Homo sapiens: one gene and its partners. The protein of the gene in region 1 interacts with the protein of each later gene in a pairwise test. Each region holds a gene or a part of one and is shown in the gene's direction. Other genes may lie near its edges.

Region 1 (3,742 bases):
CTGGTGCTGGAGGGCAAGAGAGCCTATGAGCCATGTGTGGCTGTCAGCCCCTTGGTGGAGAGCCACAGACAGGATGGAGAGTGGCTGGCAGGGCCCCGTGGGGATGAACAGCTTGGATTGGGGCGACTGGGCTTCATCCAGGCTGGGCTGGATGTGTGCATACATTTCAGTGACCCGTTTTAGAAACAGAATTAATATGGTGAATAGAGAAAGAAGAAATCAGTGACTTTCGCTCCTCCATACAATTCAATTTGGCTTAAGTTAGCCAAAGCCATACCAAGTCCTCTCTCTATGTCTCAGCTGCTGCCAGGCTTGTGGTGGCCACACAGCTGGCTAGACTGTCATCTCTGTCCTCAAGGGGCTCAAGCTAGAGGAGGAGAGTTGAGAAACCAAATCACTATACACAAAGTAGAAGGTGGAACACACCCAGGAGCATGTCAACGGGGTGCTGTGGGACTTCAGAGTAGGCAGATCGTCACCAAGCTTCAACGGCAAAGATGCCACTGGGGGAAAGAAGGACCAAGCTTGGAAGACAGAGTAAGTCTGGAGGCAAGATCTTGTCTCACCAGCAGGGGCCAGGTCCATGGTGACACCTTCCCCAGGCAGTCACCTCTCTGAGCCCACTTTATATCCTAGGCCTGGATTCAAAGACACTTGAGCCCTGCTCCAGCCTTCCTTTGAGGTGCTATCTTGGTGCCTTTCCTATAATCACTGCTCCAGTCCCATGTCATCTGGTCCCCAGTTACCACATCAAGCTTCCCGAAGCTCCACACAGACCATGCCACATCTTTACCAAAAAATCAGCAGTGGGTCCCCTCACCTCCAGGACAAAGCTCCAGCTCTTCGACCTGCCTGTCAATATTTGCAATCACTGCCTGCACAAATTAGCTGGGTGTTGTCATGAAAGGATCACTTGAGCCCAGGAGTTCCAGGCTGCAATGACCTATGATTGAACCACTGCACTCTGGCCTGGGTGACAGAGTGGATCTAAACTAAAAATAAAAAGATTTACAGTCAAGCCTCAAAGGCTTTTCCCATACCTTCTTCCACCATCACCTCCCTGAGCCCTCTCTTTCCTCCGAAGCCTCCTCGCACATCCCTACCACCTTTGCACACCTCAGAATGGGGACACCTCTCCCCTTTCCTCTCCATCTAACTTATGGTTTTCAAACTTGAGCGTGATCAGTTACCTGGAGATTTGTGAAAACCCAGATGACTAGACCCACCCCCAGTTTCTGATTCAGCAGGTCTGGGGTGGGGCCGAGGATCTGCATTTCTAACAAGTTCCCAGGTCATGTTGCCGCTGCTACTGATCCAGGACTTTGGGAATCGCTCCTCTAATCTACAGCTGTCCATTCCCCATGGTCCATTCAGAGCCTCTCTGCCCTGCCCCCACCACCCCCAGTCTCGCCTGTCTGCCAAGCGCACAGGAAACTCTCCTTCATCCAAACCCTGGACCAACGCCTTCTGCTTGGCCCACTCAGAGGCCTTGTAGGGTTGGTCTGATATTGGACAGAGAAATGGCCCTCTGCTCTTTCTCCCCTGACCTCTCTGAAGGGGGCCTGCCCCTCCACACCTGTGGGTATTTCTCGCAAGGTGGAGACAAGAGACTGAGAAAAGAAATAAGACACAGAGAAAGTATAGAGGAATAAAAGTGGGCCCAGGGGACCGGCGCTCAGCAAGTGAGGACCTGCACCGGTGCTGGTCTCTGAGTTCCCTCAGTATTTATTGATCACTATCTTTACTATCTCCGCGAGGGGAATGTGGTGGGGCTATAGGGTGAAGGTGAGGAGAGGGTCAGCAGAAAAACATATGAGCAAAGACTCTGTGTCATAAATAAGTTTAAGGAAAGGTGCTGTGCCTGGATGTGCTAGATTTATGTTTAACTTTACACAAACATCTCAGTGTAGTAAAGAGTAACAGAGCAGTATTGCCGCCATGATGTCTCGCCTCCAGACATAAGGCAGTTTTCTCCTCTCTCAAAATAGAATGTATGATCGGTTTTACACCGGGTCATTCCATTCCCAGGGACGAGCAGGAGACAGATGCCTTCCTCTTATCTCAACCGAATAGAGGCCTTCCTCCTTCACTAATCCTCCTCAGCACAGACCCTTTACGGGTGTCGGGCTGGGGGGCTGTAAGGTCTTTCCCTTCCCATGAGGCCATATCTCAGGCTGTCTCAGTGGGGGGAAACCTGGACAATACCTAGGCTTTCTCGGGCAGGGGTTCCTGCGGCCTTCCACAGTGTATTGTGTCTCTGGTTAATAGAGAACGGAGAATGGTGATGACTTTCACCAAGCACACTGCCTGCAAGAACTTTTCTTTTTTTTTTTTTTTGAGACAGAGTCTTGCTCTGTCGCCCAGGCTGGAGTGCAGTGGCGCGATCTCGGCTCACTGCCACCTCTGCCTCCCGGGTTCACGCCATTCTCCTGCCTCAGCCTCCCGAGTAGCTGGGACTACAGGCGCCCGCCACCACGCCCGGCTAATTTTTTTGTATTTTTTTAGTAGAGATGGGGTTTCACCGTGTTCACCAGGATGGTCTCGATCTCCTGACCTCATGATCCGCCCGCCTTGGCCTCCCAAAATGCTGGGATTACACGTGTGAGGCAAGAACTTTTTAAAAGTGCATCTTGCGCAGCCCTAGATCCATTAAACCTTGATTCAATACAGGACATGTTTTTGTGAGCACAGGGTTGGGACAAAAGTTACAGATTAACAGCATCTCAAAGCAGAACAATTTTTCTTAGTACAGATCAAAATGGAGTTTCTTATGTCTTCCTTTTTCTACATAGACACAGTAACAATCTGATCTCTCTTTCTTTTCCCCATACCTCTCACGCTGTATCAGGCCCCAATTCTTGGGAACGTCACCTTAGAACTGTCCCACACATTTCTACAGCCACTTGGCTCAGGCCCTTTGCTGACCAGGATGGTTGCAGTTCTGCCTTTGGTGCCTCGCCTCCTCCAGTTCTTTCACTCAGCAGCTGCAGGGGTCCACGTGGCAAATCTAATAATCTTCTTCTCTATAGAAAATCCTCTGCTGGCTCTCTAGTGCCCAGGATCCAGTCCCAGCATCTCAGCACGGCCTTCAAGCATTTCCACGTCCTGGCCTGGCTCCATGGTCTCCCCGCCAATTTGCCACCTTCTCCATGCATCCTTTTCTGATCCCCTCCTCACTCATCCCAGCAAAGAACCCCCTCCTGGCCTGAGCATAGCATTTCGTGGTGTGTATCTCAGAGCATCCAGTTAGGGGTGTGCAAGTTTACTTTGTTACTGGCTGATGTTGTGAAGTCCCAAGTTGTTGGTGCCGCAAACAAAAAATTGGACATGACACACACAAATAGCAAAGCAGCAAAAGTTTATTAAGCACAGTACGATCCACTATGGATCAAGGATGACCTGCGAATGGTATCAGCATCACTTTGCTATATTTCATGGCCTTTTCTATGTGTTTTTTTTCTCTTTTTCCTCAAGCTGCCTAAGCTTTAGCCAGCATGTGCCTTTTGGTTGACAGGTGGGTTGCTTAGTTTCTTGGCCTCTGTGTGTTTACGTGTCATTTCCTTCCCATAGTTTTAAGTACATGCATGATATGCACTCTGTAGGCATGAACCTTAAGTAGCTAATTACTATACGGGGTCATTTTGAGGATATCTTTTCTCTGTAGTACATGTGCATCTTTTTTTGCAGTGGTGCAATCTTGGCTCACTGCAACCTCCTCCTCCCTGGTTCAAGTGATTCTCCT
Region 2 (3,084 bases), on another chromosome or scaffold:
TATCCCCAGCCCTTTAAGAGCTCTCAGTCCCACAGAGAGATAATGGCCTAACTAACATCGTAAATAAGGGTATGAGGATGCCAAATGAGGATAGCAGTTAGCCCACATCACAGCAATCAGGGAAGGCGTCCTGCACACCCTGAGTAAGGGAAGAACCCAGAGATACGGGAGAAAGAGACAGGTGTCTTGGTACCCAGTCTGTGATGTGACTAAAGTGCAGGGGAGGTGGAGAGCAGGGGACCATCCTCACTAGACCAAGATGAGGAGTACCTGAATTGTATTGCTTGGCGCTTTGCTTCCTCTACTTCTCATGAAGATTGGCTTGTTGTCCTGTGTCCCTGTTGAGCTGGTTGCTCTGAGACGCAAAGCCTCTTCTCCCTCCTGGATCTGGCTGATTTCCTTTCTTTGAGGTGAGCTCTGCTCTTTTTCAGGGGTTCTCCAGGACAAGGACCTCTTCTCTGTCTTCGCTGATCCCAATATGCTTGATACGTAAGTGTACCTGTCCTATTAGAGGGTACCTTCTCTCTCCTCGTGCTCAGGCCAGAAGCCTAATTGTCACCCTGCAGTCTGCTCTGGGAGCCCATCCATAGTCTGTCACCAAGTCTACCCCTTAGATACGTCAGGGGGTGAGAAAGAGCAAAGCCCAAGAGCAGGGCTTTTGTCAAGAGTGCTGGGAGGAAGCAGGATTCTGAGGGAAAGGGTCTTGTCTGCCAGGCTCAGTTTAGGTTTCGTGTGGTAGAAATTAGGGAGCTTTTCAAGGATTTTAAGCTGGCAAAAGGAGAAGCAGGTGTACAGATCCGTAAAGTGTCAAAGCTAAAAGGGACATGTCCTCATTTTGCAAGTGAAGAAAACAGCCCCACCCTGGGAAGAGAAGGGACCAGTCCAGGGTTGCCTGATGTAGTAGTGGTGCCTAGACCAGACACTCCTCATGTGCTCAGGCCAGAACCCTGAGCCTCCCAGGCTGCACCTTTCCCATCATGCCTTGCCTGTGGAGAGGGTGAAGAATCTGCAGCGGACCCCAGGAATTTGAAGGCCTTGCACCCGTTGCTGGGGGCAGATCAGCAGGAGGATAAAGCTTCCTGGTGGAAGATGCTAAAGACTGAGGAATTTGAGAGCAGGCACAGGTGGCTGCATTGTTGTGAGGGGGCACCCAGAACTCCTGTTATGGCTGAGGGTGCTCTTTTGGAGTCACCCTTGGGTTTCTTCCTGCTTCTATCCTAGGTTGGTGCCTGCTCACCCAGCCCTCGTCAATGCCATTGTCCTGGTTCTGCACTCCGTAGCAGGCAGTGCCCCAATGCCTGGGACTGACTCCTCTTCCCGGAGCATGCCCTCCAGCTCATACCGGGATATGCCAGGTGAGCGCCTGAAAAGTGTAATGTGGGCCCCTCAGGAGCCGGCAGTGGCCCAGGAATTTGCTTTACTCAGCAGCTATGTATAGCGTTGGCAGAGGGCGTTCCTTGGGAACTCTCGGTTTGAGTCAGGAAGTGCATCTGTCCTGTAATTTTCCGAGGGGAGAGATGAAAATATGAATTTGGAGAGTAACTTGAGCTGAGATTCTGGAGCTGCGCCTGTGCCTTTCTGTTCTTCCTCCTGAAATCTGTTCGTCCTCCTCCAGGTGGCTTCCTGTTTGAAGGGCTCTCAGATGATGAGGATGACTTTCACCCAGTAAGTGGCCTGCCTGCCTGCCTGACATGCTGACATGTGGGGGAGATGGTGCTGGGAATGAGCTGCATCCTGGGACCTGGCACTCCCAAGGCTGGGAGATGGACATACGCCATTGGGGGGCCAAGACCATGTCATACTATTTCTGCTTTTGGATTCCTTTCTGAACCTGGGAACTTAAGAGTTTCCCCAAGAACTATTGCTGGAGGTGGGTGGAGTTCATCTGGGAGTTTCACAGTACTGCTTCCCTGATTCTGAGTGTCTTCTTTCTCCAGAACACCAGGTCCACACCCTCTAGCAGTACTCCCAGCTCCCGCCCAGCCTCCCTGGGGTACAGTGGAGCTGCTGGGCCCCGGCCCATCACCCAGAGTGAGCTGGCCACCGCCTTGGCCCTGGCCAGCACTCCGGAGAGCAGCTCTCACACACCGACTCCTGGCACCCAGGTATGAAGACGGGGCCGGGAAGATCAAGGCTGGGCCCCCAAGGAACAAGCTCCCCAGCAGTAGAGTAGATTTGCCTTTGCTGACCCTGGTGCTAGATCTAGTTTAAGCTGAACCCTGGAGTCCTGGTGGGGATTTCTTACTGCAGCTTGAGTGACCTCCCCTTCACTTGCCTTGAGGACTCAGAAGTCTAGATTTTAACATGGTCCCGTGTAGTCCCCCCTATTAGTTCAGAAGACTCTTCCTGCACACAATATGCCCTTCCTCATCCCTGACAGGGAGCAGACATCACCAGCTTAAGCATTTCTGGGTGACAAGTCACTTCAGCTTTCAAGGCCATCTCTCCCAGTGCTGCAGTGCTGGGGTCCTAGGCTGGGACAAGGGGCTCAGTGCAGAAGAGAATGGAACCTTTCCTGCCCACATAGAGAGCTTCTAGTTACCTTTGTTTGGTTGTCTTATGGCAGGTCTTTGTTGGGAGGCAGAAGTTGGGTACCTCAGGAGTGCTGTGAGGTGATATGACAACAGCGAGCATCTGCTATAAGATTGAGATGGCGCTGAGGGTGGCACTGACCACTAATTTGTCTCTAGGGTCATTCCTCAGGGACCTCACCAATGTCCTCTGGTGTCCAGTCAGGGACGCCCATCACCAATGATCTCTTCAGCCAAGCCCTACAGCATGCCCTTCAGGCCTCTGGGCAGCCCAGCCTTCAGGTCAGTCTTCCCCACGTCTTGGTTTCCATGTGGCTTCCTTGTTATTTTGGATGCCCAGCCTTTGTTTTGCTCTCTGGCGGTCCTTCACACCTGGCATGCTTCATTCTAGGAACAGCTGGAGCATGGCAGTGGGACAGGTGCAGAGTGTTCCTAGCAAGGGCACACTCTCAGACCATACACAGTGGTCACTAGGCTTCTCCTGCCCCTAGTGACCATGGCCTGACTCCCTAGACCACCTGGCTTAGATAATCATGGCCATTTCATTCATTCA
Region 3 (3,742 bases), on another chromosome or scaffold:
AGGGAGTGTGGGGTTTGATATCGGACCAACTTGATTCAAATGGCAGCTTTGTCACTTATTAGCTGTATGATTTAGGGCAGCCAGCTAAACTTTTCAAGCCTCTGCTACCTCTTCTGCCAAATGATATGACAGGAATGAACCCTAACTTTCAGCGTGTTTTGAGGACTAACTGAGATAATGAATATAGAATCACTTAGCAAAGTTCCTTCTGTGTAAATTATTGAGCAATATAATTCCATGTGATTTAGAAAAAATGAATAATGACATTAATTCTCATCAACCCCAAAGAGAAACACAGTTAAGTCTTTACCAATAAGAAACTGATTTGCACAAAACAAAAAAACAAAAGGCCTAAAGAGAACACGGCCTTGTGGCAAAAAAGACAACCTGATAAAGGATCAGTGTCTTAGGTGTGTGTGCTTTATAATTAACAAAAAATGTTCATATACACTGTTTTATCATGATACAACATCTCTATGATTGCTGGGTAGGGAGAACAGATAGAATCTTGCCTGTTTTTGCCAATGAAGAAATTGAAGCCAAAGATTCTAAGAGAATGGCCTAACAACATATAACTAGTTATTACTAATTTAGGATTCAGAACTGGGTCTTCTGACTCCTCTGCTAGCATTTATTTCCACTTTACCTTACTGATGATCTAAATAAAAAAAAAACTAGACATTGAAGAAATATAAAAATATCCTATTATAATATTCTAGCCCTGTGAAATTTAAATCATTGTTTATTGAGCAAGTAAGACTAATTCTGCATTCTAAATTGAAAAGTATTTATATTTCCAAAATATTTTTAGTATGGGCAACATAGTGAGATCTCATCTCTATAATTTTTTTTTTTAATTAGCCAGATATGGTGGCACTTGTCTGTAGTCCCAGCTACTTCGGAGACTGAGGTGAGAGGGTTGTCTGAACCCAGAGGTTGAAGTTGCAGTGAGCCAAGATTGCACCACTGCAGTCCAGGCTGGGCAACAAAGCAAGACCTTGTCTTAAAATTTTTTTAAAAAAATTTTATGCTATTTTTAATTGACAAATCATAATTGCATTACACTTACGGAATACAATGTGATGTTTATGTATACACACACATACACACAAAATGTGGAGTGATCAGAGCAAGCTAATTAACATATCTATCTCCTCACTTGACACCTTTTGAGGTGACACATTTGAAATTTACTCTTGGCTGGGTGTGGTGGCCCATGCCTGTGATCCCAGCACTTTTGCAGGCTGAGGCAGGAGGATTGCTTGAGGCCAGGAGACCAGGCTGGGACACGTAGCGAGACCCTGTCTCTAGAAAAAATAAAAAAAATTAGTCAGGTGTGATGGTGCATGCTTGTAGTCCTAGCTACTTGGGAGACTGAGGCAGGAGGATTGCTTGAGCCCAGGAGGTAGAGGTTATGACGAGCTATGATTGCACCACTGCACTCCATCCTGGGTGACAGAATGAGAACCTGTCTCTTAAAAAGGAAAAAAAATGAAAAAAGGAATTAAATGTACTGTTAGTTACAAACTTTTAAAATATTTTTAACACCTAGTATTTATATGTTGCCTCGCCATTTTAAATTTTAATTACCTATGTTAGAAAAAGACAGAAGAAGTATGAAAAAAAATTGCTGTCACTATCTCAGTAGCCTGATGGTTTTTCTTCACATTCCTCAGGTATTCTTTTCTGTATTAATTGGGGCTTTTAGTGTTGGACAGGCATCTCCAAGCATTGAAGCATTTGCAAATGCAAGAGGAGCAGCTTATGAAATCTTCAAGATAATTGATAATGTAAGTCTGAGTTGGCCATCTATCCACCTATCTAAAAGATTGTCCAGTTAAGTCAATTTCTTTGTCACTTTATCCAGCTCTCCACAAAATATCACTAAAAGTAGTTATTGTAACCTAGTAATCTCTTAAAATTTGATTCTGTTTAGAAGCCAAGTATTGACAGCTATTCGAAGAGTGGGCACAAACCAGATAATATTAAGGGAAATTTGGAATTCAGAAATGTTCACTTCAGTTACCCATCTCGAAAAGAAGTTAAGGTACAGTGATAAATGATTAATCAACAATTAATCTATTGAATGAAGAGTTTCTGATGTTTTCTTGTAGAGATTATAAAAAAGTGCATGTATATTTAAACCTAGTGAACAGTCAGTTCCTATATCCTGTGTCTGTGAATTGCCTTGAAGTTTTTTTCTCACTCGTCCTGGTAGATCTTGAAGGGTCTGAACCTGAAGGTGCAGAGTGGGCAGACGGTGGCCCTGGTTGGAAACAGTGGCTGTGGGAAGAGCACAACAGTCCAGCTGATGCAGAGGCTCTATGACCCCACAGAGGGGATGGTGAGATGACCCATGCGAGCTAGACCCTGCGGTGATCAGCAGTCACATTGCACATCTTTCTGATGTTGCCCTTTCAATTACAAATGTATGAAAGTCACACTTACTTTTTATTCCAGGTCAGTGTTGATGGACAGGATATTAGGACCATAAATGTAAGGTTTCTACGGGAAATCATTGGTGTGGTGAGTCAGGAACCTGTATTGTTTGCCACCACGATAGCTGAAAACATTCGCTATGGCCGTGAAAATGTCACCATGGATGAGATTGAGAAAGCTGTCAAGGAAGCCAATGCCTATGACTTTATCATGAAACTGCCTCATGTAAGTTGTCCTTGCCCTTTGCCTTTCTAGAGGTGCAAAAAATAAAATGCAGGCCTACTATGCAGGAAGTTAGGAAACTACTATAAATCGGAAGAAGGGAAATCCTAAGAAGGGAAAGTAAGATTACTTCAGATTTGAAAGCTCTAGCAGTATCAACTGGTCGTAGATACATTTTTAAAAACTGAGGTTGGTTATTGTGTTAAATAAGATTTAAAGAACTGGACCTGTATTACTTGTGAGACTTGGGCTGTGTATAGGATTCCTTACCAATTTAAAATATGAGCTGAGATAGCTTGTCCTTATGCTAAATCATTCTGGGTTTTCTGTGGTAGAAATTTGACACCCTGGTTGGAGAGAGAGGGGCCCAGTTGAGTGGTGGGCAGAAGCAGAGGATCGCCATTGCACGTGCCCTGGTTCGCAACCCCAAGATCCTCCTGCTGGATGAGGCCACGTCAGCCTTGGACACAGAAAGCGAAGCAGTGGTTCAGGTGGCTCTGGATAAGGTCAGTGAGGCTTAGTTCAAACCAACCTGATTTATAAGCATAAGAACATTCTACTACTAATTCTTGTTAATATTGGTCTTAGAAAAGGAAATTTCTGATAGCTTCTAGGTGATTCCTTCAGCTATTAAAATAAAAGCATTGGGCCTCTTTGAAATCTTTTTCTATTTGTTTGTTTTATTGTTCAATTTCTATTTATTTCTCTGATCTTATTTTAAATGTTGATGAATACATTTTCATTTGAAGACACTTGCTAATCTTTTAAATTAAAAAATAGAAATATAGACACATGTGAAAGTTCATCTTCATTGTGATCTTCAAAACTTGACTATGTGGATAACCCTGTTATTTAGGTTTTGAGAGTTTGTAATATTGCCAAGAAGAGAAAAATACAACCTGAAGGTCCATATATAATTTTCCAGGTGTTGAATGCCACTTGAAGACTCTATGCGAAATAAGAAACCTCTTATTTCCAGGAAAGGGGCAGATAGCCTGTGATACTGAAAACCTACCTAAGCCATGACAGGTTATTGACTATCAACAGAGTTTGACTGTCCTGCAATTCTGGAGTCCATATG

The links. The genes of interacting proteins can lie anywhere in the genome.
Region 2: the proteins of CD4 (region 1) and UBL7 interact in a two-hybrid assay, tested with the Homo sapiens proteins (one large-scale study listed by BioGRID and IntAct).
Region 3: the proteins of CD4 (region 1) and ABCB1 interact in a two-hybrid assay, tested with the Homo sapiens proteins (one large-scale study listed by BioGRID and IntAct).

The regions. Positions count from the first base shown.
Region 1 is NC_000012.12:6,795,851-6,799,592, forward strand, and holds part of CD4 (T-cell surface glycoprotein CD4 isoform 1 precursor), read left to right. Parts: intron 1-3,687; exon of another isoform or gene 3,688-3,742. UniProt on the Homo sapiens protein: Integral membrane glycoprotein that plays an essential role in the immune response and serves multiple functions in responses against both external and internal offenses.
Region 2 is NC_000015.10:74,448,207-74,451,290, reverse strand, and holds part of UBL7 (ubiquitin-like protein 7), read left to right. Parts: intron 1-431; coding exon 432-489; intron 490-1,221; coding exon 1,222-1,355; intron 1,356-1,615; coding exon 1,616-1,665; intron 1,666-1,937; coding exon 1,938-2,105; intron 2,106-2,690; coding exon 2,691-2,813; intron 2,814-3,084.
Region 3 is NC_000007.14:87,548,773-87,552,514, reverse strand, and holds part of ABCB1 (ATP-dependent translocase ABCB1), read left to right. Parts: intron 1-1,676; coding exon 1,677-1,790; intron 1,791-1,936; coding exon 1,937-2,047; intron 2,048-2,218; coding exon 2,219-2,344; intron 2,345-2,460; coding exon 2,461-2,664; intron 2,665-2,996; coding exon 2,997-3,167; intron 3,168-3,742. UniProt on the Homo sapiens protein: Translocates drugs and phospholipids across the membrane. Catalyzes the flop of phospholipids from the cytoplasmic to the exoplasmic leaflet of the apical membrane.